Linked DNA regions of Homo sapiens. The protein of the gene in region 2 interacts with the protein of the main gene of each other region in a pairwise test. Each region holds a gene or a part of one and is shown on either strand. Other genes may lie near its edges. The genes, in order: NFIL3, GMCL1, SHQ1 and FLYWCH1.

Evidence for each region.
Region 1: the proteins of GMCL1 (region 2) and NFIL3 interact in binary tests that used the Homo sapiens proteins (3 or more experiments, as listed by UniProt).
Region 3: the proteins of GMCL1 (region 2) and SHQ1 interact in binary tests that used the Homo sapiens proteins (3 or more experiments, as listed by UniProt).
Region 4: the proteins of GMCL1 (region 2) and FLYWCH1 interact in binary tests that used the Homo sapiens proteins (3 or more experiments, as listed by UniProt).

What each region holds. Positions count from the first base shown.
Region 1 is NC_000009.12:91,420,801-91,428,555, forward strand, and holds the start of NFIL3 (nuclear factor interleukin-3-regulated protein), read right to left. Parts: upstream 3,033-7,755; 5' UTR 2,840-3,032; intron 1,629-2,839; exon of another isoform or gene 1,200-1,628; intron 905-1,199; exon of another isoform or gene 822-904; intron 1-821.
Region 2 is NC_000002.12:69,867,505-69,874,747, reverse strand, and holds part of GMCL1 (germ cell-less protein-like 1), read right to left. Parts: intron 7,050-7,243; exon of another isoform or gene 6,947-7,049; intron 5,030-6,946; coding exon 4,884-5,029; intron 3,004-4,883; coding exon 2,916-3,003; intron 1-2,915. UniProt on the Homo sapiens protein: Possible function in spermatogenesis. Enhances the degradation of MDM2 and increases the amount of p53 probably by modulating the nucleocytoplasmic transport.
Region 3 is NC_000003.12:72,845,308-72,852,417, forward strand, and holds the start of SHQ1 (protein SHQ1 homolog), read right to left. Parts: upstream 3,139-7,110; 5' UTR 3,034-3,138; coding exon 2,891-3,033; intron 1-2,890. UniProt on the Homo sapiens protein: Required for the quantitative accumulation of H/ACA ribonucleoproteins (RNPs), including telomerase, probably through the stabilization of DKC1, from the time of its synthesis until its association with NOP10, NHP2, and NAF1 at the nascent H/ACA RNA.
Region 4 is NC_000016.10:2,928,834-2,936,076, reverse strand, and holds part of FLYWCH1 (FLYWCH-type zinc finger-containing protein 1), read right to left. Parts: exon of another isoform or gene 7,160-7,243; intron 6,465-7,159; 5' UTR 6,392-6,464; coding exon 6,067-6,391; intron 5,668-6,066; coding exon 5,197-5,667; intron 2,948-5,196; coding exon 2,495-2,947; intron 2,362-2,494; coding exon 2,098-2,361; intron 1,989-2,097; exon of another isoform or gene 1,463-1,988; coding exon of another isoform or gene 1,410-1,462; exon of another isoform or gene 1-1,409. UniProt on the Homo sapiens protein: Transcription cofactor. Negatively regulates transcription activation by catenin beta-1 CTNNB1, perhaps acting by competing with TCF4 for CTNNB1 binding. May play a role in DNA-damage response signaling.

The DNA.
Region 1 (7,755 bases), on a different chromosome or scaffold from region 2:
GTTTTACAGTAGGACAGCAGCGTCTATGTGGGCGTTTAGATTTTATTTTGAACTCTGGAGATCAGTGTTCTCTCTCCTCTAGCCTTTGACCACATAAATTAAAGGTTAAAAAAAATCGGCTCAACTCAACTGGCCAAAGTCAAGCTGAGGCCTTCCTTTTAATCACTATCAATACTGGAGCGCCTCCACCCCCAATTTCTGTGGCCGGTGGACGTTTGGAGGTTTTTCTTAAGGTCTTTTTCACTTCAAGAATGGAGACGCGCTTGGTTCCGAAATACAATGAAGACTCTTGGAACAAAGGTGTCTGCAGGTTTCTGAACCTCACCGCAGAACAGGCGCGGAGTCAGGCCCCTGGATTTGCCCTGTTGGAAGGAGGGCCGCGGAGACGCAGGCGCTCCGGGTCGCCCGCGCTGCCCCTGTCTGCCCCGTGCGGGAGCCGGGGTCCCTGGCTCCCTGGCTCCCTGGCTCCCGCGGCCCGGGCGAACCCAGAGCGCACCCGTACGCCGGCCCCGGCCGGTCCCTAGCGCCCGGGCTCCACGGGCCGCGCCCCCACGCGGCGCCTCCCAGAGACCCTCCTCCCTCCGGGTGGGCGGCGCAGCGGGGCCTCGGCGCCGCGAGGACCCCCCGCGCCAGAACAAAGGAATGTGGGGAGGGGGCAGGGAGGAGCTCAGGCCACTGAGCAGCCCCAGTATAACTGCCGTTCGGAGGCGCTTCTCGGTCCCGACCCGAGGTCCCCGCCCGCCACTACCAGACCCGCCCCCAGCCCCGGATTCTCGCAGACCCCACCGGCCCGCAGGAGGGAGCGGCGCACTGGGGGCCGCACGGACTCGCCATTGGAGATCGCGATCGGAAGGTGGCGCCACGCGGCCCCTACAGGCCTGGGACTCCCACCCGAGCTCGCAAAGTAGGTCGGGGTCTGAAGCTGGGGGCCTAGAGCAACTAGCTTCTTGGAAAGCGACTGCAATTATTTGGGGTAATATACTCTGTTCCAGAGACGTCCACCCCCCACCTCCCACAAAAAAAAACCCTGCACTTAATTTAAATGTTACGTTATATATACATCCCATCATATACATATATTCACACATAATCACTATGTAACAGTCCAGGAAGAAATTTAATATTTGGGTAAATTACATATTCACACATCTTCACATAAGTAAAACCAGGGTATCCAGACAAAAAAACAATCTACTAACCTATATCTGTTTCCCATAGGTCATATCTGGTCTGGGGGTAAATAAATACTTCTGACCTCACTTACTGTTGTTATTTACAAAAGCCAAGAACAGAAGATGACACTTGGCCATTCCCTGCTGTTCTCAGAGAACAGCAGTTTCCTAAAGTGTCCTTTAAAAACATAAATGGGAGCCAGCATCCAGCAAATCACCGGGCGCTGCGAAATGCCTTCCTAAAAATACAATCTTATCAAAGGTCTCCGAAGGCGTGGAGTTAAAACTACAGCAAATGGCCTTGAACTTGTATTTGCACACAGCCCTGGAGAAAACACCAGAAATAGCACTGCGAGGCCACAATTGTTAAAATGTGATAGGGCTAAATTTAGAAGAACGTGCGTTTCATTTAGGGCAAAAGACACACATTCGGCAGCATGAGCAAACTCCATGCTTACCCGGTTGTCTACTTTCCTGTTTAAAATATCCTTAAGGAAAAAAAAAAAACTGTTATAGTGACATTCTTAAAGGCTGAGACTGTCCTACTTTCTTTGTAGCAAGATTATAAAATCACGTAATTAGCTCCCTCTCTCTATGCTCACTGCCAGCAAATTCGGCAGTTACATAATGCAACATTTCCAGGAAACTATTATGTGATTTGTCTTGTCGTGTCTGAAAAAGCAATGACAATAAGGTGAGAAAAAGGGCTGATCGAATGGAATGCATTAAAATTAGGAAGGTGGGGAGGTAAACGTCACAATGGTTCGTCCCAGATTTAAAAATAACAGCTGAGAACATTGAAAGGGCGAACCCCAGTAGTACCCAAGATCAGAATTCAATGCGAGCAATTCTTGCTTTTAGGTTTTGTAGTATCGTTTTAAAACCTGTTTATTTGGGACGTAATATAGACGTAAATAACGATCTAATATCCAACGCTGCGCCTCAATTACCAAATCATTGCACACATACGCGCATATTCCCACATCAGCCCGCAATTCTTGCCAACATTTCACCGTGGGCAGATTATGCAATGTATGAAAGGACAAATCCCACAACCTTCCCGAGGGCTTGTAAAACACGCTGACGACAAACAGGGTGGAAAACGTCTGTGCAGACACAGCCCCTGACACAAACAAACGCCGCGCAGGCATTCTCCGAATGCCGTCACCGTTCACGCTACCAACCCTTTTTCTCACCAAGCAAATTAAGACTATTCCCCATTCCTCAACCCCCCATTCCTCTCCCCCCTACGCCGCCAGCCCCAGAGAAGGAACGAGAAAGAAAGACACTAGAGAGGAAAGAGCATCTTCCCGCTCGGAGAGGGCTCAGCCTGCCTGGCGCTCTTCTTTACCAAAACATCAATTTTCCTGAAATCAGGAGACATTATGCAACAGCAGCGGGGGGAGAGCGCAAACCAGCCAGGACTACGTGCCGGCGCGAAGGCGCTGCAATCAAAGCAGCCACCTTAAGGTGGCGAGTCCCATCCTGACAAGGCAGCAAAAGTTTATGTAATGAATGCCCCGCGCGCACTCGCCGCCGCTGGCGAGCCCAGCTTACAGCCCGACCCCGCACACAGCGCGGCCCGCACCCCGCGCCCGCCCGCCCGCCCGCAGCGCGCCCTGGGAGCGGTCGCCGGGCCCCCGGCCGGCGGTGGGCGGAGCGCTTACCGTGTTCCTGCTCTCGGGCCGGCGAGGAGAAAGAAAGGGGCGGCCGGGAGTCGGGCCGCCGGCGCTCGGGGCTCGGGCCGGGCCGGGCCTCCGGGGCCGCGGCGGGAGGCGGGCGGCGGCGAGGGCGCGGCGCGGGAGGCGGGCGGGCGCGCCGGGTCCGCGGGCGCCGTGGCCGCGCGGAGAGATGTGTGTTAGTAGGTCAGTTCCGAGCGCCGCGCTACGTCGCCGCCCGCCAGCCCCGCGTGACTGGCGGCCGCGGCCCCAATCGCCGCGCCCGCACCCGCCCCCGGCCCGCCGCCAATGGCCGCGGCCGGCAGGGGCGGGCCGGGGCGGGCACTCCGCGGCCCCGCCCCGCCTCCCCGCCCTCAGCTCCCCCTCCGCGGCGGCGCCACTACCAGCTCGCGTCCCTCCCCGGCCAGGGCCACCGCCGTCCGAGCGCCCGCGAGGGCTGGCGCCCCATTCCCGGCGCAACGAGTGTTGCGCAACGGCCCACGCGGCCGACACGACCGGAGCGAGCCTGCGGAGGAGCCCGGGAGCCCCCCGTCCCACCGCCCCGTCCGCTCTTGGCTCCCTTCACCCTCCCGGTCGCCGCGGTGGCTCTGCGCTCCCCGCGACCCTCACTTGCTCGCAGAGGCGCTTTTTGTCTTCCTGAGAGCCGCAGCCTGCTGGGCTACCTGTTGCCGACTGAGCACTGCGGGTTGCGGCTACCCGGGCGTGGCCCGGACCTCGGCCTCCCCTTCCCCGCACACTCCCGAGAGGAGCCCTCTACCTTGGGGTGGGCAGGAGGGAAGGCGGGGGGTGGCGGCTGGCAAGCTGCCAACACTCGGGGCGCGCTGCGGCGGGGAAGGGGTTGGCGCGGCCGGGCAGCTGCGCAGGGCTGCGCGGCGGAGGCAGCGATTAAAATGTCCCGGCGCCTCTCCCGAGAGCCGCGACGGCCCGGAGCCGGGAGGGAAAGCTCCACGCACAAACACCGCCCCCTGCACAATTAGGGCGAAGATGACGGCTGCAAAGTTGTTGCGTAACACGACTGGGAAACGAGGCTCGCTGAGGTCCATCTACCCACCCCCGCCACGCGGGTGCGGCGTTCCTCGGAGGATGTGAAGGTCCGCGCTCGGGTGCCCCCGCTGGGACGCCCACTGTCGTTTGGTGCTGGGGCTTGAGACGACCGCGCGGGATCTCTTCCTGTGATTTTGAGCTGATAGCTGCTTAGTGTTATTTCTGCGTCTAACTGGATACGGTAGTCTTCTCTCCCAAATTCCCGGGCTACGGAAGAGACGTAAAAAAATGGAAAAAAGAGCACCTAGCCGCGACTTCTTAAGTCGTCGCGCTAGACTGTCAAGGCACGTGGCACACTCCCTGCGTTTACCGATACACGGATAGTGGTCAGTGCTGGCCTTGGCGAAGGGAGCCATGTTCCCGACAGTGACTCACAGGCTTGCCCAAATACGGAGTGTGGCAGGTGGGCAGGACCTCCACCAGCCAGCTCCCTCCTGGTCTCCTTGAACTACGTGGGGGCTGGGCCGAGTGCCTCCACGACTTTCCACTTCTTTTTGCTCCTTTCGTTTTTAAAAAGCAAAAACCAAAGTAAAGAGAAGAGCAGAGTGAACACCCAGGTACCATCCCTAGTGTCTGCCATGAGCAGCAGATCTATCTACTCGCCAAGATTGTCTTTTCTACCTTTCCCCTTCTTGCACAGTTAATATCATAATAACGCAAGTCATATTTAAAAAATTTTTATCACCTATCAGTTGAGTTTTTGGAAAGCCTTCCAGGGCAGCGTTGTGGTTTTGAACGCACTCTTGTTCGTGATTTATCTGGTAGTACAGCTCTGCTGACAAGGCTCTGAAAACTCAGACGTACAATATGGGCTTAGCGTGTTCCCCGACACCATCTTCCCGGTGCTGACTAATGCAAGAACCACATCCCCTCCACTACACATTTTCCAAACTTGACTACCTTCATGAGAACAAATCCTGATTTTAGTTTATAATTTCCACTTTTCTCATACATATATAATAATTCAAGATGTGGTCTTACTATGTTGTCCAGGTTGGCCTGGAACTCCTGGGCTCAAAGGATCCTCCGGCCACAGCCTCCCTGGTAGTGGAATTACAGGCGCATGCCACTGTGCCTGGCCACTTTTCTCAAATTTACTGATAGTTTCCTTTTTGCCCAAACCTTACAATGCTTATTTGTAGCTTTGAGAACCTCTCTTAGATGAAATCAAAATCATATCCATATTAGTTGCCTTTTTGGGGTCAGAAATGCAGCTATTGTCTAGAAATCCAGGGCTGTCCTGCATAATCTACCCTCCCCTTCACGTGTTCTGACCTTGTTCTGCATTTTGAATAATTTCATGGAATTTCAAAGCCGTTGTAGTAAATGTCTTTCTTTAAAGACAACTCGACCTTCAAGACAGGTAAAGAACGTGCCTGGAGCCACCCCAGGCAGTGATGCTGGAGGAGTTCTCTCAACCTGGAAACTTATTCTTTATGCTGAATTTTGAAATCGAATGCTCCTATATTTACTTGGAGTATTTTAGATTGTGTATGTATTATATCTGTGCATCATTCATTGTTACCATCTAACTTGGAAATCAGAGGAAGTGTGAAAGGTATCTGAGATACCAGCTTAGAAAACAACTCTTTAGCTCCTCCTGGTGATTAGGACACCACTAAACAACAGGATGAAGGATCTGTCCCCAGGGCCGAAGTGATGATGTATCTAATATTATATCCTAGAACATTCACAGAGTAGGTAAGTATTTGCAGATTAACTCGAGTAAATGGAGCATAAAAACCTAAGATATTTGAAACAAATTAACCAGGGTGGGGAGGCTTCTAGGAAGACATCAGCATGTGCCTGATGGTGGAGCTGGGCTGTAAGGTTCTCAGGAGGAGGAGGAAGGGGTTCTTGCTCTCAGCAACCTCTCAGTGCTAGGGGTGGATTGAGGGCAGGGGCAAGGGAGGAGGTGCCTGGACAGGGATGAGAACTACCAGCAGAAGACAATCAACCACATTCTAATTCATTTTATTATACTGCCAACATGGTTTCTGACTAAGCAAATATAAGAGCTATAGCTTGAGAACAGAATGACTAAAACAGTGACTTCTCCTTACTAAAATGGGAATTAATAGGAATTTGTAATTTAGTAACAACTTAATTTAATATAGTAATAATTTTTCTACAGCTGCAGAATGTCTTGAGCTGGAACATCCCCAAGAGGCCATATATATATCCCAGGGATTTTACAGTGGACCTCACTAGGCCGGAGTAACTGTAAAGTCAGATGGATAATGAGAATTCAGGACGTTAGCCACACGTGGACTGTGGCAAAAAGAAAGTGACCCACTGAAGAAGACTGTTTTTCAGCTCTCTCATCAATTGCTGTTTCCAGGAGCCCACAGCTCCAATTACTCAAAAGAACGTTGACTTTTTTTTTTTTGGTAAAATATCCTGATTTTCAGGTTAGGCAAGCAATTCATTAAAAAATAAAAGACTGCACAGCCCACAGCTCCAATTATTCAAAAGAAAGTTGACTTTCTTTTTTTTGGTAAAATATCCTGATTTTCAGTTTAGGCAAGCAATTCATTAAAAAATAAAAGACTGCAGGACTTACCTACCCAGAGGCTGGACAGTCTGAGTCCTCTGAGTTCTACAGAGATGTCCTGGGAACAGGGGGTGGAGACGGGGGACTCAGTGGCTAAAAAGCAGGCTGCCTACCTGGCAACCAAATTGGGCAGCTCTACCCTATCTGTTTTGTGCATTGGACTTATGGATTTCTTTGTAGAAAAAACTTCGATAACTAAAAGCCCTTTGGTGACCTCCTGTCTGGTCTGGTGGCCGGCAGCCTGCATCAGGGCTCCTGTGTGCCAGGACCATTTTCTTTCCACTGTAGTATGTTTATGGACCACCTTGTGTCTTTTTATTAAACTCCAGGAACAGAAGTTCAGTTTCTGGGAATCCATAGCATACCGTTTTTGTTGTTGTTGTTGTTGTTGTTGTTGTTTTTGTTTTTGAGACAGGGTCTTGCTCTCTTGCCCACACTGGAGGGCAGTGGAGTGATCACGGCTCACTGCAGCCTTGACCCCCCCAGGCTCAAGCAAACCTCCAACCTCAGCCTTCCAAGTAGCTGGGATTACAGGTGCACACTACCATGCCTGGCTAATTTTTTAATTTTTTTTTTGTTAGAGTCAGTGTCTCTCTATGTTGCCCAGGCTGGTCTCAAACTCCTGGGCTCAAGCAATCCTCCCACCTTGGCCTCCCAAAGTGCTGGAATTACAGGTGTGAGTCACAGCACCAGACCTGTTTTGTTTTCAAGTGGAGGCTTTAAGATGTGAGCTAGCATGGTAGCCTTAGTGAGGTTCTCCTCCCCACGCCCATCAGTGTGTGCTTTTTGCTGGGATTTTGGCTTTGATGCAATGAGTCATTGACTGTTGAGGCAGAAACTTCCTGGAATGATATTTCTTTCCACCACTCATGCACTTTTATTTCTGCTATTCATGCCATTTTTAATCTTTCACCTCTGTCTTCCTCTTCCGCTTTGCCTTTTCTTGTAGTTTTTCTACCTTTGTTGACCTTTTTTCTTTTTAAATTTAGTTATCTTGATTTACTCTATTATTCTTAGTTTTTTCCTTTGGCCTTTCTCCAGTCATTCAGATCATTACTTCCTGGGATTCCTTCATTCCCCCAAACATCCACTTTTCTCTTTGCTCTTGCCACCTACCTATCCCAGCCACAACCTAGACGTTATAGTTTTTAAGATTTCAACTGTCTTCCAGCCTCTGCCTCTCGGTCCCCTAACTTTGCCATGTGGCTCCATTAGCAGGAGTTCTATTAGCATGCTTGGCCTTCTTTTTCAAAAACTAGCTTTTGTGGGAAATTGGGTAATAGAAGATGGTCACATAACATTCCCT
Region 2 (7,243 bases):
AAAAGTAAAAACTATAGAGTATCACAAATGTATTTTTAATATATAAAAGCTGTTAAAAATTAGCAAGAAAAAAATGAAATTTTAATAAAAAATTAAACAGGAACAATATAAGCTGTCAGTTTACATGAGATGATACGTTCAATAAGCATAAAAAAACCCAACAATACAGTAACCAAAGAAATGAAAATTGAAAATTAAGGGCCAGGCGCGGTGGCTCACACCTGTAATCCCAGCACTTTGGGAGGCCAAGGCAGGTGGATTACTTGAGGCCAGAAGTTCAAGACCAGCCTGGCTAACATGGTGAAATCCTGTCTCTACTAAAAATTAGTGCACTCCAGCCTGGGCGACAGAGCAAGACTCTGTCTCAAAACAAACAAACAAAAAGAAATGAAAATTAAAACAAATATTTGTTTTCACATTTACTACGCTGGGATAGAGATGAAAAAGAATAAGATACAATATTGGGTATACTCTCCTGTACTGCTGCCAGGGGGAAGTATAAATTGGACAGTAGCTTTGGAGGGCAATTTGGCCATTAGAAAATTGTATGCACCATGCAACAAGAATTCTACTTCTTGGAATTTATGCTTTAAAAATATCATAAAAATGGACAAAGATATATGTATATTTCCTATAGTAATGAAAAAAAATGAGAAACAACTTTATCCAATAAAGAGGAATTATCTAAGTTACGGTATAGCCAAAACAACTAATATTATGCCGTTCATAAAAATGATGCTGTGAATATATATTTATTGACCAAAAAAAGCTATGTACAACAAAGTGAAAAAAAAAAAAAAAGGTTACAATTACTACCTCACTGTCTGATGCACCTAGGCTCACCTGGCCTTGGGCTCTGAAAGAGGACCAAGCCTTTCTTCTACTGGGCCCAGGCCAGGTGACCCCATTTTGCCTCTCCCCCAGGCCTGACCACTATGCGACCAACAAGTTCTCCCAGGCCACTGACTTGGCCATGAAGAAGACAGAGGACAACAATGCACTTGTGTTCATTGTGGATGTCGAGGTCAAAAAGCATAAGATCAAACAGGCTGTGGAGGAGCTCTATGACACCAATGTGGCCAAGATCAACACCGTGATCAGGGCTGATGGAGAGAAGAAAGCCCATGTTCAGCTGGCTCCTGAGCATGCTGCTTTTAGAGGCTGCCAAAAAATTGGGATCATCTAAGTTGAATCCAGCTGGCAAATTCTAAATATATATGTTTTTCACCATTAAAAAAAAAAGCAGGTTACAAAATAGCTAACCTACTGTGATCCAATTTTGCAAAAATGATACAGGTGAAGGAAAAACTCAGCAATGTATCTGAGTGGTACATGTATGATTGTTGTTTCAGCTGACTCATATTTTCTATTTTTTCGACAACATCTATAACCTATATAAAACACGGAGACAACTCCCAAAGTAAATCTCCCAAACTCCATCCACAGCCCTCATGCCCTGGCTCTAGTTATACTGAACTCTTCCAACCATCTTTCAGTTCCTTGAATATGACCCATGTATTCCCTTGCTTCCGGAAATCTTACTCACCATTTGAGGCTTGGTTCAGGTATGCATTCACTTTAACACTTTTCCAGGAGAGGATGTTTTCCCTGAGCTGTCTTTCTTTCTCCTCCTCCTCCAATAACCACCCCCAACCACGGCAGCTGCTCAGTTACAGGTCAGAGTCTTCTCCCTCAAGGTTGCACACTCTGAGCTAATTCTATCATGCTACTTACACTAGGCTATATTAACACAAGCCTGTCTTTATTTCTTCTACTTCTAGCTGAGAACCAAGCACATGGTGGGGACACAAATGTTTGCTGAAGGAACATGGGAATACAACTATTATCTTGGCCTGGTGCTTTTTTAGGTCTCTGGCTGGGTTTGAGCCATGACAGTATTTTTCATGAAGTTTCAGGTAGAAGATAAAGATAGTCATTGTCTGTTCAGCTGCAGAGGTTACAAGAAGGACCAACAGAGAGTTCTGATGGAGGCAGATTTGGACTTTCTCATTATATACCTGCCTTGAAATGGACATTCCTACATATTACCTTTCATGTAAGATGGGGGTCAGTTAGAGTTTCAACAATGGGTGGATGACCCCCTCTGTAAGAATGCTGTTAAAAGAAGTTCTCATATAGGGCATGTGAGGTTACAATGATCACTTCCGGGGTTACTTGCAATGCTAAGGATGTTCTATGATAGTCTCTTCAGTCTGAGGAAAACTACTAACTTCTCATAATTTATGTAAACTATAACAGGCTTTGAATCCTTTAATAAAACATTATGCCCTTTGGAATGATGATTACTTTTAATAGAAATAAAGTTCCTCAATATTTTAACAGCTTTCAGTTTTACTTTTAAAAATGGTCTACTTTCTCATCATGACACTTTGAAACTTCTCCATGTGTGTGATGTATGAATAAATAAATGGCTTTGGAGATAATCTGGGGAACATTGCAGAGTTTGCCATCTTACGAACCTAATGGGCTAGAGAATAATGCTCTTATGATATTCGGAGCTATGGAGACATACAGGATTGTCTTTAAGATGCCTGCTGTGAATGTATAAATAAATGCACTATGTACACAATGGATAAAGCACTTAAGATTCCTAAAATTTTAGGAATGAATTTTAGTGCTGCTGATATTCAGGATAAACAATTATTTCCTTATAATCAGTGTTTCCCTGCCCCTCAAACAGTGTTTTCTTTTTTTCTCCTAATTATGCTTCCATTGGGATGGGGTCAATTATGCATAAGTGAATGTGGTACTTTCATCTTTACCTTCAAAAGACTTTTAAACCAACTTTTAGGTCAAAATGCCATCACTTTAATGTTAATTCTACTTAAGAATTTTCAAAAGAGGATTCAAAAGACAAATATTATGATGACATACCAGAAGATAATCGAACATACCTGATCCTTTTCAAGTGTAAGTATTTGATAGCCAGTTGTTCTACTACATATTAGTTTTCCACTACTATCAAAAGAAGCCAAACGTAATCTAGGATTAAAAAAAAAATAAAAAATAAACACAAGATTTTTAAACCACAGATTAAACAAGCTCTTCCTTACTTTCATATTTACTTTTTCCTCTGTTTTTTATTTGATAAAAGACTTTTAGGAAGTCTTTTCAAACTGTAATCTGACTGCATTCAGTGACAAGCCTGTGCTATTATACATATCTGGCCAAGAGAAATCATTTATAAATGTTTTTATTGTGGTAAAATATACGTAACATTTATCATTTTAACCATTTTAAAGTATATAGTTCTGTGGCATTAAATATATTTCCACATTGTTCTGCACCCATCTCTAGAACATTTTAATTTTCCCTCGCTGAAGCTCCTTACCCATTAAACACTAACTCCCCACTTTCCCTTCCCTCAGGCCCTGGCAACCACCAGTGTATCCTCTGTACCTATGAATTTGTCTACTCTAGGTACTTCGTATGAGTGGAATCTTACAATATTTGTGCTTTGTGAGTGGCTTATTTCACTTGGCATGTCTTCCAGGTTCATCCATGTTTAGCATGTATGAGAATTTGCTTCCTTTTCAAGGCTAAATAATGTTCTATTTTATGTATATACCACATTTTGTTTCTCTAGCATCTGTCAGTGAACATGTGGGTTGCTTCCACCTTTTGGCTATTGTGAATAATGCTGTTATGAACATAAGTATACAAAAATATCTGTTTAAGTCCCTATTTTCAATTCTTCTGGTCTATAGAAGAGAAACTGCTGGATCATATGGTAATTCTGTTTAATTTTTTTGAGGAAGTGTCATACCATGCTCCATAGTGGCTGTGCCATTTTACATGGCCACGAGCAGTACACAAGGGTTCTAAATACTCCACATCCTTGCCAACACCTGTTACTTTTGTTGTTTTTTTTCTATTCTGTTTTTACTAATAGCTATCCTAATAGGTGTGAAGTGATAGCTCATTGTGATTTTGGTTTGTATGTCCCTAATTAGTAATGTTGAACATCTTTTCATGTGTTTATTAGCCATTTATATATCTTCTTTGGAGAAATGTTTATGGAAGTCTTTGGCCCATTTTTGAGCTGAGTTGAGTTTTCTTTTTAAATTATAGAGTTGTAGGAGTTTTCTATATATTCTGGGTATTAATGTCTTATCAAATGTAGCGTTACAAATATCTGCTCTCATTCCATGGGTTGCCTTTTCACTGTCTTGACACTGTCCTCTGATACACAAGTTTGTGATTTTGATGAAGTCCAATTTTATCTACTGCTTCTTTTGTTGCCTGTGCTTGGGTGTCTTATGGAAGAAATCACTGCCAAATCAATTGTTATGAAGCTTTTCCCCTATGTTTTCTTCCAAGAGTTTCATAGTTGCAGTTCTTATGCTTAGATCTTTGATCCATTTTAAGTTAATTTTTGTATTTGGTGTAAGGTAAGTATAAATATATGACTTTTAAATCATGTTCATTAAGCTACTGTCCAATTTGTCAGCTTCTGGTATCCTCTCAGAAAAAGATTGCCAGCAACTACTGGGCAAAATTTAACATATTAAATCCTTTAAAAAGTTAAGGATAATATGTGTTTTCCTGGAAACATACCTTGCTACATATTTCAACAGTCTGGATCTTTTATTTGCTAGGAATAGCAACAAGGCAACGACTTCAAGGCTGATATTCCCTACTGGTATATATTCCAGCCTATTCATTCTCCCTGACATACTAGATCCTATGATTCTGATTACTAACAATAGATTTCACAGGAATGGAGCCTCGTCATTTCCTACCACTTCCACATATACTGTAGCTTACCAAAGTTCTACTAATGTTGGTGTAAATTATCAAGGTTTTATTTCTTATATTTTCTCTGGAGTGAGGAGGAGTGGGGTGGGGAAATCTCATCCTACCTAAATGCTATGCTCCTTCGAGGCTGTAAACTGACAGATCCGCTACATGGCTGATTCAGTGTATTGCGTTTGAAAATGATGTATCGATTGGTGTAAGTTACAAGTAGGTCGAAGCCGAAGTTAAAACCTGTCCAACGCCAGCAGTACTAAAAAATACAAGAGAGAAGACTTATTTCAGTTTATCATATTAGCAAGTAGAAAATAAAAAATTCAAAATGTCTTTTTGTCTCTAACTCATTCCAAGTATTTCCCTCATGGGTGGTCGACTTTTTGTCAGTGACTTTTTCTTAAGGCTTACCACCCAAAACTATTTATCTAAGCTAGAAAAGCTGCCCTTAATGATCATAATTCTCTAAGCTACTTTCCTCTTCATGATCAGTTTCCTTATCTCTCCATACTGCAATTCTACCATAAATAATAAGGCTTTTTTTTTTTTTTTTTTTTTTTGAGACAGAGTCTCATTCTGTCACTCAGGCTGGAGTGCAGTGGCATGATCTTGGCTCACTGCAACCTCCACCTCCCGGGTTCAAGCGATTCTCCTGCCTCAGCCTCCCAAGTAGCTGGGACTACAGGTCCCTGCCACCACGCCCGGCTAATTTTTTTTTTTTTTTTTTTGAGACAGAGGTTTGCTCTAGTTGCCCAGGCTGGAGTGCAATGGCATGATCTTGGCTCACCACAACCTCCACCTCCCGGGTTCAAGCGATTCTCCTGCCTCAGCCTCCTGAGTAGCTGGGATTACAGGCATGCGCCAAGCCTGGCTAATTTTGTATTTTTAGTAGAGACGGGGTTTTTCCATGTTGGTCAGGCTGGTCTCGAACTCCCGACCTCAGGTGATCCGCCCGCCTCGGCCTCCCAAAGTGCTGGGACTACAAAGTGTAAGCCACTGTGCCCGGCCTTTTTTTTTTGTATTTTGAGTAGAGACGGGGTTTCACTATGTTGGCCAGGCTGGTCTTGAACTGCTGACCTTGTGATCCACACGCCTCGGCCTCCCAAAGCGCTGGGATTACAGGCGTGAGCCACTGCACCCAGCAATAATAAGGCTTTTCACTGCAACTCTAAGTGGGTATATAGCTTAGAGCACTAAGAGTTTCTAGAGCACTAAGGTAATTAAGAGCCCATTAAAATCCACCTTGCTTTAAAAATACTCTTAAGGGCTGGGTGTGGTGGCTCACGCCTGTAATCCCAGCACTTTGGGAGGCCGAGGCGGGTGGATCACCTGAGGTCTGAGGTTCAAAAACAGCCTGGCCAACATGGCGAAACCCCATCTCTACTAAAAATACAAAAAAGAATAAAAAAAAATAAAAATAAAAATAAAAATAAAATACTCTAACTCAAGTAACACACAACTGGGTTATTTAAATATCATCATGGGGTTCACGAGTTTGTTTATTCTATCAGCTAATAGTTAATGTGAGAGTATCAGATAAGGTAGTGTGATACAGAGAAGTAGTTAGGGCTTCAAGTGTTTGGCTGACACCCTGAATTGCAATTCAGTATTTAACTGATATTTATTGAGCACATATTATATGCCAGGCACTCCTCTAAGCAATGGAATCATAGCAGTAAATAACATACAGTTTCTGCCCTAGTAGAGGTGATAACTGTAAGGGCAAAGCTTTTTTTTTTTTAAAGAGACAGGGTCTCGTTATATTGCCCAGGCTGAACTCTAACTCCTGGGTTCAAGCAATTTTTCCACCTAAGCCTCCCAAGTAGCTGGAATTGCAGGTGCATACCACTGTGCCTGGCTGGAGCAAAGCTTTTGAATAGGTGAGCATGGATAGAGTCCAGTACAAAGAGAGGGAATGGACTAAGATAGAAGTAGGCAGTTCATTTTTCTAATAAGATGAAATGCATAGCGCATAGCTACAGGTGCAGGTAGACTGGCAGAACTACTGGTAAGATGATGTACAGATTCTCTTTTCATTGCAGTAGGCAGCAAGGCCATCAGATAAGAATAAGGGTGGGAGCATTGCCCTTTTAAGGAGAGAAGGTATGAGTTACCTCAGCTAATGGGAGGATCAATTCACTAGGAAAATGCAGACAGATCATGATGCAGCACTAACCTACTTCAAGTTCATGGTTACCACATTCAAGTGGAACCCAATGGGGTACGGTGTTTGTCTTTAATCACATTCATCTGTCTGGATGCAGGCATGGAGTGCAACCCTTGACAAGAGTTGGGGTTTAGCCAGGTGAGTTTAACATGTCAATGAGGAAAAAGAAAAGTTAAAAGAGTATAAGCAAGGGACCAATTTTACGATGGAACATAAAATATAAGTCAAGCAAAATAAGAAGTAGAAATGTGGTCAGAAAGGTGATAGGGAAAGGTTGTAAAAACAATGTATTGTATATCCAGAATG
Region 3 (7,110 bases), on a different chromosome or scaffold from region 2:
ACCCTATATCTACTAAAAATACAAAATTAGCCAGGCATAGTGGTGCACACCTGTAACCCCAGCCAGTCAGGAGGCTGAGGCAGAAGAATCACTTGAACCCAGGAAGGGGAGGTTGCAGTGAGCCGAGATCATTTGCCACTGCACTCCAGCCTGGGCAACAGAGTGAGATTCTGTGTCCAAAAAAAAAAAAAGAAAAAAGAAATGAAGTGATTTCCCTGCTTCCAGTTTTACCCTAGTTCAATCAGTCTTCCACTGAGGCTCCAAAATAATTTTTCTAAAACAGGAATCTAATTGTCACTTTTCTATTTTAAAAAGTGTCTATGGCTGCCTCATGTTGCCTAGATAATTTAAACTTATCAGAAGGGCATATCAGGCCCACTCCATATCATTCCAAACTTGAAATTTGAGCTTCCTTTCTTCCCATGGCCCTCCCCCTTGTTTCCTACTAAATATGATTAAAAACAAAAACAGCTGACAGTCCCAAAAGGCCCAGGACCTTTAATCCCAAGGTTTCCTCAAGCTTCAATACATTTTCAGAATGAAAATCCCTCTAAGCCAGAATAAGGGGTCAGTTTATGGATGAGTTTGTTATAATGGTTACAAACGCTAACTTTAGTGTCAGAATCTGAATTAACTCCTAGATCTGCCATTTACCAGATGTGTAACAACCTTCTTTGTACAAGTTAATTATTCTTCAAGAATCATAAATCCCTCTTCTGTAAAGGGGGGAAATAACAGTAACTATCCAAGCGTTACTATGAGCATGAAATGATAATGCAAAGAGCTTAGTGGCCGGCACAACAGGTGAGCATTCAGAAAATGTGAGCTATTATTACCAGCTCCCTTCCCCTAAACTCTATAAGCCTAGAGTTAAATTCTTACTGCAGAGAAAATTATATTTGCTTACATGGGGCCTCCGCAGCTACAGTCTCCATTCTTCAAGGAGAGGGACCAGGTTTTATTCATCCTTGGTATAGCAAACTGTATGTTCTTTTTTTTTTTTTTTTTAGACAGTCTCGCTCTGTTACTCAGGCTGGAGTGCGATAGCGCAATCTTGGCTCACTGCAACCTTCGCCCCCCAGGTTCAAGCGATTCTCTCACCTCAAGCTTCCCAAGTAGCTAGGACTACAAGCGCGTGCCATCAAGCCCAGATAATTTTTTTGTATTTTTAGTACAGATGGGGTTTAACCATGTTGGTCAGGCCGGTCTCAAACTCCTGACCTCAAGTGATCTGCCCACCTCGGCATCCCAAAGTGCTGGGATTACAGGAGTGAGCCACCACATCTGGGGGCAAACTGTATTATCAAAGAATGCCCATCTCACAGCACTCTTCCCAACCATGAAGGTCTATGTTCCCTCCCCTTAAAATTCAGCAGGCTCTGGGACTGTTTTGATGAATACAATAAAGCAGAAGTGACACAGGAATTAGACCTTTAACATATGAATTTGGGGACAAGAGTTGGGGGGGTGCCCACAAATAATCCATCCACGGCAACGGGTAAATAATAAAGCCTCGTTGTAACACTGTCCTAATAACAAATGAGATAATCCGTATAAAGCACTAACCTGGAGTAAAAATTCAATAAATATTTGCTACCACCATAATCTTCTTCCTATTCTTCACATCTTGGCTTAAATATCGCCTCCCCAGAAAGGCTTTTCCTGACCACTTTATAAAACATGGGCCCTTTTTCATTCTCTATTAGTGCACTTCTTTCTCCTCATAGCACTCACCACAATTAAGTACACTGTTTATTGTTTTCCTCTCCCCAGTGAAAAGTACATGAGGGCAGGACTTTGTCTTGTTCAGCACAATAATACCAACACTGAAACTCAATAAATAAATTAAAGAAATAAGTGAATTAAAAAACTGGAAAGTGCAATAATTCAAATACGGACGTTATATGGTCTAAGGGAAATCTGAGCAAAACTGGTTCAGCAACAGTGAAAAAACCACCTTGACTGGTGGAGAAGGTTTGTACCACAAAAGTACTTGGGTGGGAAAAGTAGGATGCAGCTACACTTCAGAAAGATTAGGAGGATGGATAAAGAGAAGGACAAGAGATTGGCAATACTTTAGGATGAATATGTAGCAGCGGGTTCTGTGGAATGGGGTTAATAGCAGTGCTTATCCCTAAGGATCACCGTCAAAGTTAAATGAGATACACCATCATAAAGCACTTAACGGAACTGCTTGTCCACCACACTACGAGTTATCAGTGTTAGCTGCTACCAAGGTTACGATTCTGCAAGGAGAATAATTTAAACAGATCAAGTGCTGACAGACCCTCACGGAGACTTGGGGGAAACAACCACACTTCAGGGACAAAACCAAACAGAAGAGCAGCAGACAGCAGGGAAGCAGGAGAACTAGGCTAATTTGGTGTCAAGAGGTCCAAAAAAGGTAAGAATTTCGGTAAGTAGGGAGCGGACAGACAAGAGATAGATCAACAGAAGGCGGCCTGGGCAAAGTTAAAAGGACCGACGGGTTGGGAAGTCACGGAGATGTCAGCGCGCGCCGTTCCCAGGAAGGGAGAGACTGGGAGAGCAAACGCGGAGTGAAAGGAAAGAACAGAACAAGTCAGAACGGGACGAGAACTAGGGCGACAGGGCAGAAACGGGAAAGTGACACGGTCCAAACGTCACTTTTTCAAGTGATTCCGCAATCCTTTGATATGGGATTTAAGAAAGCTCAAGAAGGAAAAGGGCTTCCGCAGCATCTAAAACGCACCCCTGGAAGAGGGCAGTTCCCTGGCACCAAGAGAAGCTGCGGAAACGTCGGGAAAAGGCATTCGCGCAATCGAGCACTGCTCTCTCGACCTTGCATTCTCCCTCTAAAGCAGCTATCTAACGAATGCGCCTTTCCTGCGGCCAGGCACCCCGAACTCGCCTGAGAAAGTATGGCTTGGCGTAGAACTTGAAGTCAGACCCCTCGAAGTAGACGTCGAACTCGGAGACCCGGGCGTAGGGCACGCGGATGGCGATAGTCAGGAAGTCCGGATCCTGGCTGAGGTCGAACGCCGGGGTCAGCATCGCCGCACCGGACGCAAGGGCCGGCGCCGCTCGCTCTCACTGCCGCCGCGTTCCCGCCACGCAAACTCTCCAACTCCCCACGCGCAGGAACTCTCGGTGTGAGGGACGGAGCTTCCGGCTCGAGGCGGAAGTGCTCGCGCGTAAGGCAGGAAGTCTCTCCCCACGCCAATCTCCATGGAGACGGGACGCCGTTCGAGAAGAGGCGGAACTTTCAAAACCCCCGGGCGGAGAAAGGGCGTGGCGAGTGGTGCCTGGGAGCCGGCGTTGAACCGGCGGGATGACTAGCAACCGAGCCTTTTTCGAGGTTCTTAGAGATGATTTTAACAGCACTGGCTTGACAGGTAAACAGACGTGCGTTTGAATCCCTTCCTGGCCACAACTTCTCAGCTGTAAGACCTTGGGAAAGTTACAAAACCTCTCTATATCTTCTGTAAAACGCGGATAATGCGAGAACCTAGCCCCATAGAAATGCTGTGAGGGTAGCATGAAATTGTGCATGTAGAACTCTAATAACGAACTTGGCAAGTTGTCAACGCTTGATGTGCTGAAGTAGTCACCGCAGTAGCCACAGCAGCACCGTTACAGTGGTTTCCCTTAGTTCTCACCTGCCTTGTGAACAATTCCTCTTACACTTTCCCTTTCCTCCCTCTCTCTTTCCACTTCTCTTTTTCTGCAGCTTTCTCTCTCATTCTTAACGGCTTATTTGAAGAGTTTTCTCTTTAACAGAGCGTCCGTCCCGCTAATCTCATCTAATCTACGCTGCAAACTCTAAAGAAAACGGCTCAGAGAGGTTAATCAGTACGTTTTATAACCATGCATTTTACAGTAATTAGAACTCAGAACGTTTGACTCTTAAACCGTGTCGGTGACTGCATTCACAAATTAAGGTCCCTCTGTATTCCCCTTCTTTCCTTTTTCTCACTCTTGTCCTTACACTTGTCTGAGGACATCTTTTCTGTCTTTTTTTCTACTTGTCTTCCTTGTATTTTCTCCCTTTGGAGTGTGCCCCTTACACTCTCTCAGTGCCTCTCCCGCTGGTTTCCCTCTTCCCCCACATATTCCCTTGGCCTTTCCACACATGTTGTTTCCTGTTATTCCACCACTAATTAGAATAATCCAGTTGTGGTATTTATTCCGTGGTTTTAAGTATCAGTGGAAAAGGGATGAAAAGTACTCTCCTAGGACAGTGGAGATAACCAGAAAACTTCAAAAGTCTTTTCAATCTCCAGCTGTTTTATGATTCTAAGGAGACATTCTTGAAACTTCATTAGGACTCAGAAAAAAAATTAATAGTAACAGGGGCTAACATTAACTGAATATTTACTATGTGCCAGCACTGCAGCAAACCCTTTGTAATGATCTCATTCTCCCTCCTGACCGCTCTATGAAGTAGGCATTATATATTCCCTTGGCTTGCACAGGATCTCACAGCTAGTAAGTGGTGCAATGGGAATTGAAACCCAGGTGAGTCTGATTCCTAGGCCCAGGCTCTACACTATTACAGAGTTGACTCCCTCTGTTATTACCACCTACTTTGTTTCACATTCTAAAGCCAAGCCTGCCTGCTTTAGACCATACTGAGCCTTACAAGTAATAGGCACTCAATATTGACAATGAATTGATGCCAACTTTGATTTAATAAAGCTCTCAAAAGGTCCCTTGAGATAGGCCTGTGACTAAACTATTCCAAATTAGCTTCTTTACAAAGAATCTTGGCCGGGAGCGGTGGCTCACACCTGTAATCCCACCACTTTGGGAGGCCGAGGGGGTGGATCACCTGAGGTCAGGAGTTCGAGACTAGCCTGGCCAAGATGGTGAAACTCCGTCTCTACTAAAAATACAAAAATTAGCCAGGCATGGTGGTGTGTGCCTATAATCCCAGCTACTCAGGAGGCTGAGGCAGGAGAATCCCTTGAACCCAGGAGGCGGAAGTTGCAGTAAGCCGAGATTGTGCCATTTCACTCCAGCCTGGGTGACAAGAGTGAAACTCCATCTCAAAAAAAAAAAAAAGAAATAATCTTTACATCTGCCATGGGACCTCATTCCTGTAGGTCACAAGCATTAATATTTTTAAATTATTAATGCCAGAGAATCAACTGAAACAAGCTATGCTATCCATGAGGAAATTCTAATTGAAAGCACTTTGCAAACTAGAGCTGTGCATTTCCTGGGTACTTTATTATGTGTCTGGCAACACACACACACACAGGACTGCAACACAGGAAAACAGACAACATGGTTCAGTGCTGCCGTCATTATAAGAAATATATACTGCATCTGCTAAATCACAAAATACGGATAGTTTCAAGTATATAACAAGGTTTTGTTGTTTTGGGTTTCTGTTGGTTTTTGTTTTCTTGCAGGCAATAGTTCTCTTATTTTTGCATTTCTATTAGTGGTAAATATAAGTTATAGATTCATTCTCACTTAAGAACATAAAGTTCCTTTTGGCTGCCATGCAACTTTGGTTCTTTCTCCTGCTTCCTCAAAGGCAGTCCTAGCTATCACTTCAGACCCTTTTCTATTTCTACATCCATTTCTATGGACCCTGTTGCTTTGTGTTTAGACCCACTTTATATGGGCACATTCTCACACTATGAAAGTAATTCTGCAACATGCTTTTTTTCCTACTTTGGTTCATTTTTGAGACATAGCTATATTGATTCATAGATCAAATTGAGTTTCTATTTCTGAATACAGACATTGCTTGAGAATAAAGACATTATTTTAATGTTTTAAATTAGCTCTGGTTTAGAGGGGAAAACAGGAATGCAATTTTTCATCATTTTTGAGCATTCAAATGTTGCAGTGTTTTTTATCTTTTCATTTTCTGAAAGCTTACTTTTGAATGGCCTTCCACTGTTTTAAAAATAGTTTTTCCTTCTGGCCTATAGAGAACATGAAATAAAATAATAAGATAAAGTTTTTTCCATGACCAACTTATGTAGGACAAGTGTGTAACCTATCATCTTTCATTATATTAAATTGGCCCCTCCTCTGGTCTAACAACCCTGATTGTGATCCATAAGCTTCCAAATTAAATGTTAAATTAAAAATGGTTTTTATAAACAATTCCAATGTCAGCTTTATTACCAAGTTCTATTGTTAGAAGTCTTTTAATGGTGAAATACTCCTTGTTTCCAGAAGGTGGCATGCATATAGGTGATTAAAACAATGTTATCTCAAAGAATGGAGCTTTAACCTATGTTGAAAAATAGCTTCCTGAATAAGTTGTTTATAGCGCTAGTTCATTCTCTGAGCCATTTTGGGGAGGTGGTGGAATCTTACACAGTATTTGCAAACTACGTCTTAACCACTGTTATTATTTTGGCATACATCTTTTCAGACTCCTATTCATAAAAGTATGGGAAGTATTTTCAACAAAAGAATGTCATAATCTATATTTGCTTTCTTCACTTAATATAGGATTACAGGCTGGGCACGGTCGCCCATGCCTGTAATCCCAGCACTTTGGGAGGCCTAGGCGGGTGGATCACTTGAGGTCAAGAATTTGAGACTGCTGTGGCCAACATGGGAAAACTTTGTTTCTACTAAAAATACAAAAAAATTAGCCAGGTGTGGTGGCACCACCTGTAATCCCAGCTACTCGGAAGGCTGTGAGGCAAAAGAATCCTTTGAACCTGGGAGGTGGAGGTTGCAGTGAGCTGAGATTGCACCATTGCACTCCAGCCTGGGTGACAGAGCAAGACTCCATATCTCTCTCTCTCTCTCTCTCTCTCTCTCTCTCTCTCTCTCTCTCTCTCTCTATATATATATATATATATATATATATATATATATATATAATATATAAAATACATATGTGGCATTACAATATTTCCATTTGACTACATTTTTGTCAAGAATAAGTTTATCCACAATTGTACTCTTTGTTTTTTTGTTGTTTTTTTTTTCAGAGACAGGGTCTTGTGCTGTTTCCCAGGTTGGAGTGCAGTGGCAGGATCATAGCTCACTGCAGCCTCAACCTCCTAGGCTCAAGCAATCCTCCCACCTCAGCCTCCCAAATAGCTAGGACTACAGGTATGTTTCACCACACGCAGCTAACTTTTTTTTTTT
Region 4 (7,243 bases), on a different chromosome or scaffold from region 2:
TTAGCTGGGCGTGGTGGTGTGCACCTGTAATCCCAGCTACTCAGAAGGCTGAGACAGGAAAATCACTTGAACCTGGGAGACAGAGGTTGCAGTGAGCCAAGACCACGCCACTACACTCCAGCCTGGGCGACAAGAGTGAAACTGTCTCAAAAAAAAAAAAAAGACGCCCTCATCTGGGAGGATCAACATCTGATTAACAGGAGCAACAGAAAGGGATGATGATGGGGAAGTTAACAAAGAGCACGAGAGGATGACCCCACGATGAAGGACACAAGCCCAAAGCCTAAAAAGGCCCCCAGCACAGCCAGGTACAGCTGGGAGGGAGCAAAGACCCTAAAACCTCAAGCAAAGCTGACGGCACACAGAGGATCAGTCACGCAAAAGCGGCAGGGACGTTCAAGGGCAGGCTCTGCACCTGTGACACCACGGAGGCCAGGCTGCCCCTCCGGCGGAGGGAAGCGACAGACATTTCAGACATGAAAGGCCTCAACGTGCTACCTCCCGGGACCGGCCCAGGAAACGACGGGAGGCAGGACTTCTCCAAACCACAAAATTATAAAGAAAACCAAGAAAGAGAAAGGCAGGCCCAGAAGCAGGGAGTCAGCACAGTGAACCCCGAGGGACAGCTGGGCCCGGCCTCTGCCCCCAGGCCAGGCTGCACTGGGAGGTTCCAGCAACCTGCGGTTGTGGATGATCGGATCCAGGTGGGGTCGACCTGGACACACAAAAGCAGGCAAACAAACGCAGCAGCTGCCACCCCACAGAGAAGACAGAGCTGTGTTAGGAAGATGGGACCACAGAGCACCCCCCAGTCAGCCGCGAGCAGGTTTCTAGGCTAAAGTGAAACCAAACGTGGCCGGGTATGGTGGCTCACGCCTGTAATCCCAGCACTTTGGGAGGCCGAGGCAGGCAGATCACCTGAGGTTGGGAGTTTGAGACCAGCCTGGCCAACATGGTAAAACTCTGTCTCTGCTAAATATACAAAAATAGCTGGGCGAGGTGGCAGGCGCCTGTAATCCCAGCTACTCAGGAGGCTGAGGCAGGAGAATTGCTTGAACCCGGGAGGCGGAGGTTGCAGTGAGCCAAGATCACGCCACTGCACACCAGCCTGGGTGATAAAGCAAGACTCCGTCTCAAAGAAAAAAAAAAAAAAAAAAGCCTGTGCAAGAAGTGCACTGAGTAGCTGACAAGGAAATGGAAAAACCAATTAATAGTAGTGGAGGCACATTTTAGGAAATAGGGCAGCCAAGACCCTAAGAAACAATTGCTTAGTTACTTGTGGGGTCAGGAGCGGGGGTGAGGACGAGGCGGGGACCTCGCAGCACTGTCTCTCTGGAGATGGAACAAAAAGAGAAAGACAATCACAGCTCTCAAGTCCGAGAGAACTTTAGGGCCATGAGGCAACTCACATGACCCAAAAGCTGCAGGATCCGGAAGAGCCACTGGAAAGAGAGGCCAGCGCCTTGGGGCGTGAAGGAAGAGCAGGTGAGTGGAGGAGGCCACGATGAAATGGCTCCTCAGCCAGACGCTATGGGGACATTTACGCAACTGTGGTTGTGAAGTCAAAACACCAGGCACTGCGGGGGGCCGACCGTGTGGATAAAGATGGAGACAGCCGGGACCCTCCTCGGGCCAGCGTTTCAGGACATTATGGGTGTCTATGGAACAGCGGGCCGAGAGGAGAAACCGGCTGCATGTAAGTAAATATCACCTCCTCAATCCTTAACCACTCAGACGTTAAGACAGCCTTCCACCATAGCAACGAGACTGACCATGTGCAGTCAACACCCTCTATTACTACTATGAACTCTTAAGACAAACGGAGGAAGAGGAGGGCAGGGAGGTCTATCCCTGCTGCTGCTACTGTGGGGCAGGTCAGGCTGGAAGGGGGAGGCTGGGCTGAGCAGGAAGGTGAGACCCATTGAAAGCGGCATCAGGGGGGCCAAGGAGTAGGAGGCCAGGGCCATAGTTCCTTCTAGGATGTTCAAAGAAGGGAAGAGGACGTTTGCCAGGGGGAGCCGCAGCATGGAGAGGGAAAGGCAGTGTGGGGCTCCTGCCTGCTTCCTGGGGCCCAGCTCCCAGCCCACCCCCAGGTACCTGGGCTCCCCCGCTGCGCCGTGTTGGGGCGTTTCTCCCGCTGCCTCAGGGCCTCCAGGCCTCCCAGGTCGGGCGGGTGGCAGTGACCACGCATGACAGTCACCCGTCGGCCCTGGGTGATGGCGCGGCTGCGGCAGCCCATGCGGGCCTGGTCCCGGCAGGTCCAATACACCTTCTCCCCAGCCGCCTTCTCCCGCCGGTAGAGGAAGGACTCGTACACCAGGAAGCTGCCCCCCAGGGGCGTCTTCAGGAACTCAGGGCCTCCTGGGGAGGTTCAAGAGGCAGTCAGGGGAGGGGACAGGGGCTGGGTAGGCCTGATCGCACCCCCTTCCCTCCCTGGACCTCTGGAGGCAAGAGTCAAGGCAGGGCCGGTGAGCCCCAAAGGAAGGCAGCTCACCCGGGTCTGCGTCCATGTCCTGGTGCTCGTCTGGGGCCTCGGGCTGGGTTGGCAGCTCCTGGTCTTCGACCTTTGCTCGCTTTCTGGGCCGAGGCCTGGTGAGAGTCAGGGGACCCGGACCCCTGCGGTAGAGCAAACTATCCACGCCTCGGAGCAGCGTGTCCACTTGGCTCCCAGGGCCGTCCTGCCCAGCCTGCAGCGTCTCCACGGCCTTCTCCTGCTGCCGCCGGGCTTCCAGGCCCTCCATATCGGGCTGGTGGCAGTGCCCACGCATCACAGTCACCCGCTGTCCCTGGGTGATGGCCCGGCTCCGGCAGCCGTGCAGCGCGTGGTCCCGGCAGGTCCAATACACCTTGTCCCCGACAGCCTTCTCCCGCTTGTAGAGGAACGACTCGTGTACCAGGAAGCTGCCCCCGTAGCACGTCCTCAGGAACTCGAGGGGCCGGGCCTGTCCTAGAGGAGAGACCCAAGTGGTCACATCACCAGGGGTGGAGAGGAGCCCAGGAGGGACAGCCCCTGCAGACTGTGGGGGCTGACACGAGCCTTTCTCCTTTAAGGCTGAAATTTACCCTGGCTTCCTGAGCCAGATATGTCAGAGGCCCCAAACCCATTCCCACTGAACCCCTACCACCAAGCGACCCGGAGGAGAGTCTCATTCCTCTCCTAGCGGTCAGTGAGGCCACCCCAGCTCACCCCTACCACCGAGTGACCCAGAGGAGAGTCTCATTCCTCTCCTAGCTGTCAGTGAGGTCACCCCAGCTCAGGCCTGCTCAATGTTGCATCAAGGTTACACCGGGAGGGGCCAACCTGGACTCAGACTCAGTGGTCTCTGTTTTCTGTCACTCCTGCTCATATTTTTTTTAGGTTTTGTTTAACAAATCTACCCATTTTTGAATAAAACACACAAGGTATAATACATTCAAATGGTTCGAAAAGATCACAGTGAAAAATAAGTCTCCCTGTTCCCTGCACCTCCCTTCCCACCCCAGGTGCCCAGGGCAGGGGCCACCTCAGATCCTTAAGGCTGTGTCAGGAGCCACGTGGCCTCCTCGAACCCAAGCCCATGTCCCAGTTACTGGTAATAAAACAGCCAGAACTCCCATCTGCCACTTGCCAAGCCCCAAATGTGCAATTTACACAACAATCCAGGTTATCACAGCCACCTTAGGATAAAGCTCCTGAAACTCCAGAAATTAAGCCAATTTTCTGAGGCTACAGAGCTACCATCAGGGAGGGCTGAAAGTTGAACCTAGGACCCAAAACCCAAGACTCTCCCACCAGCCATCTTTTTTTTTTTTTTTTTTTTTTTTTTGAGACAGGGTCCTGCCACGTCGCCCAGGCTGGAGTACAATGGCTCGATCTTGGCTCACTGCAACCTCCGCCTCCAAGCAATTCTGCCTTAGCCTCCCGAGTAACTGGGATTGCAGGCGCCTCCACGCCCAGCTAATTTTTTTTTTTTTTTTTTGAGACAGAGTCTTGCTCTTTTGCCCAGGCTGGAGTGCGGTGGCACGATCTTGGCCCACGGCAAGCTCCGCCTCCCGGGTTCACGCCATTCTCCTGCCTCAGCCTCCCGAGTAGCTGGGACTACAGGCGCCCGCTACCACGCCTGGCTAATCTTTTTTTGTATTTTTTTAGTAGAGACAGGGTTTCACTGTGTTAGCCAGGATGGTCTCAATCTCCTGACCTCGTGATCCGCCCACCTCGACCTCCCAAAGTGCTGGGATTACAGGCGTGAGCCAAAGCGCCCAGCCTCGCCAGGCTAGTTTTTTGTATCTTTAGTAGAGACAGGGTTTCACTATGTTGGCCAGGCTGGTCTTGAACTCCTGACCTCATGATCCGCCCACCTCAGCCTCCGAAAGTGCTGAGATTACAGGCATGAATCACTGCAGCAGGCCTAGGTGTCTTTCCTGAACTTAATGGACACTAGAATTGCATGGGAACCAGATAAAATTCTGATTTTTTTTTTTGAGACAGGGTCCAGGTCTCTTGTCCAGGCTGGAGGGCAGTGGCGTGATCCCGGCTCACTGCAGCCTCAATCTCCCTAGCTTAAGTGATCCTCCCACCTCAGTCTCCCAAGTGGCTGAGACCACAGGCACACACCACAACAGCTGGCTGATTTTTTGTAGATATGGGGTCTCACTATATTGGCCAGGCTGGTCTTGAACTCCTCGGCTCAAGTGATCCTCCTGCCCCAGCCTCCCAAAGTGCTAGGATTATAGGCATGAACACTGTGCCCAGCCCACATTTATGTATTTTTTTTTTTTTTTTTTTTTTTTTACTGAGATGGAGTCTCGCTCCAGTCACCAGGCTGGAATACAGTGGAGCGATCTGGGCTTACTGCAACCTCTGCCTCCTGGGTTCAAGCGATTCTCCTGCCTCAGTCTCCTGAGTAGCTGGGATTACAGGTGCGCACCAGCATGCCCGGCTAAGTGTTGTATTTTTAGTAGAGACAGGGTTTCACCAAGTTGATCAGGCTGATCTCGAACTCCTGACCTCATGATCCGTCCGCCTTGGCCTCCCAAAGTGCTGGGATTATAGGCGTGAGCCACTGTGCCCGGCCACATTTATATTTTTAAAAGTCATTTTAGCTTTGAGTACATTTTAAAAGACCCTGTGGGACCCCACATTTCTATTTGGGCTGAGGAAGGGCCCTCGGGTCCCCTGCCCCGAGTGGACGCAGCAGGGGAGTGGATTGTACTCACCCAGCCCCAGGATCGAGCGCTTCTTGGGCGGCAGGCTCAGCAGTGACAGGGCTCGGGGTGCCTCCTCCTCCTCCAGGGCCGGCTTGCTCAGCACCAGCCCAGGAGTGGGCTCGGGCTCCTCAGGGCACTGCCACGGGCCCACCCCCTCCAGGGGCTCCTCCACTCGGCCTCCAGGGCCCTCAGGACCCTGGGGCTCTCCCAAGCCCTCTGGCAGGGCCAGGCTGGGCAGTTTCTCCCTCTGGCGCCGGGCCTCCAGGCCTTGCTCATCGGGCGCGTGGCAGTGGCCCCGCATCACTGTGGCCCGCAGGCCTCGGGTGATGGCCCGGCCCCGGCAGCCCAGCTCAGCATGTTGGCGGCACTTCCAGTACACCTTGTCCCCCACTGCCTTCTCCTGCTTGTACAGGAAGGACTCCAGCACCAGGAGGCGGCCCCCGAATGGTGTCCTCAGGAACTCCAGGGACTGAGGGGCTGCTGGGGGAACGGGAAGGCTAGGTTAGCTAAGCTAGAGCAAAGCTCAGGGTCGCAGGCACAGAGAGCCAGGGAGGGCGTGGGGATCCTGAGTATGGCAGGTGCCTTCTCCTCCTGCTCCCAAGCAAGAAGCCCAGACTCTCAGGGCTGGTTTTTATTTTGGGGGTGGTAGTGGATGTTTTTAGGGAGCTGAAGGAATTCTGCACGTCACTGCAACTCCCAGGAGCTCCTGGTACCTGACTGTGATCATCCCACCAGCCTCGGACACGCTCAGGATCAGAGACCAAGAGGCTGAGCTTGGAGCAAGGACAAGACACTATGCTTGAAGCAGGGTGTACAGGGCCTGCTGGGAGCGCTGGAACCCACGGGGTGGCTGGGCAGGGGCGGGAAGCCACACCTCACCTGCATCCAGCTTGCTGCACTTCTGTTCAGGCATCTCTAGGGCTGGCTGGACCACCCCTCCCTGCTCCTCAACTGGCAGGATCTGCAAGGTGCTGGCGAGGGTGGCGGGGCCAGCCATCTCCAGGGACAGGACGCAGTGCACTTCCTGGGGCTTGGATCCCACCCCATCCTCATCTTGGTCGGAGGCTGTGAGCAGCACCAGTTTGGAGAACTCCCTGGGCTTCCTGGGGGCTGCCGGGATGACGTCCGTGCCTGGCTTGGGGGATGGCTCCTGGCCGGCCTTCACACTCTCGCCCTCCTGCTCGCTGGGCTCGGGCAGGGGCATCCCGGGACCCAGGGCCTGTCCCTCAGGCCACGCTCAGCACCCAGCAAGGAACCTGGAGTGCAGTGGTTCCGTCCTAAGGAAGGAAGCAAAATCCCGTCAGTGGTGGAAGCCCTTGGGGGACTCTAGACGTGGATCTGGGAGGGAGGTGGGGCAGATGGGGCTGCCTCACTGCTCGCTGGGGCCAAGACTGGCCGGGGGCCTGATGGAACTAGGCTTCTGCTCTGCCAGTTCCTCTCCTGGCAGCCTTAGGTACGTCAGCCCCATCCAACCCCACTTTCCCCATCTGGAAAATGTGCACAATAAACACCCTCCACAAGGGGCCATCAGAGTGACTAATGGACTAAGAGCTCAGCCACATGCTGAGCACGGACGAAGGGTTTCCACCCGCGTTTCCAGTCCCCCCTCCAGTCCCTACATTATGACGGCAGAACGTTCTTATTGACCCAGTTATAGACGAGGATAGTGAGGCACAGACACCTGTGATACACTTGAGGCTGAAGAGGCGGGAAGCTGAGACCCGTTTCTGCTCAGATGCCCAGGGACTTGTCAGGACCTTTTTGGAAACCATGTGCTTCACCAGGACGCCAGGCACCTGTCTCAGGCATGTGGGCCTGGTACGCAGAGCCCTTTCCAGAGGACGGCACCACATCACGGCCTGGGAGGCAGAAAGCCCTTTCTGGGCTCAGGCAGACCCAGTCCCTATCCTAGCCTGGAGGCCCCAGGCCACCCCCACTTCAGGAGATACCAGGGCCCCACAGTGGCAGCCACCTTGTGCCGGAGCTGTTGCTGTGGCTGCCTCGGCTGGTCGGGGACGGGGCTGTGGTGGTGTCTGGAGAATTCTGAGGTCACCAC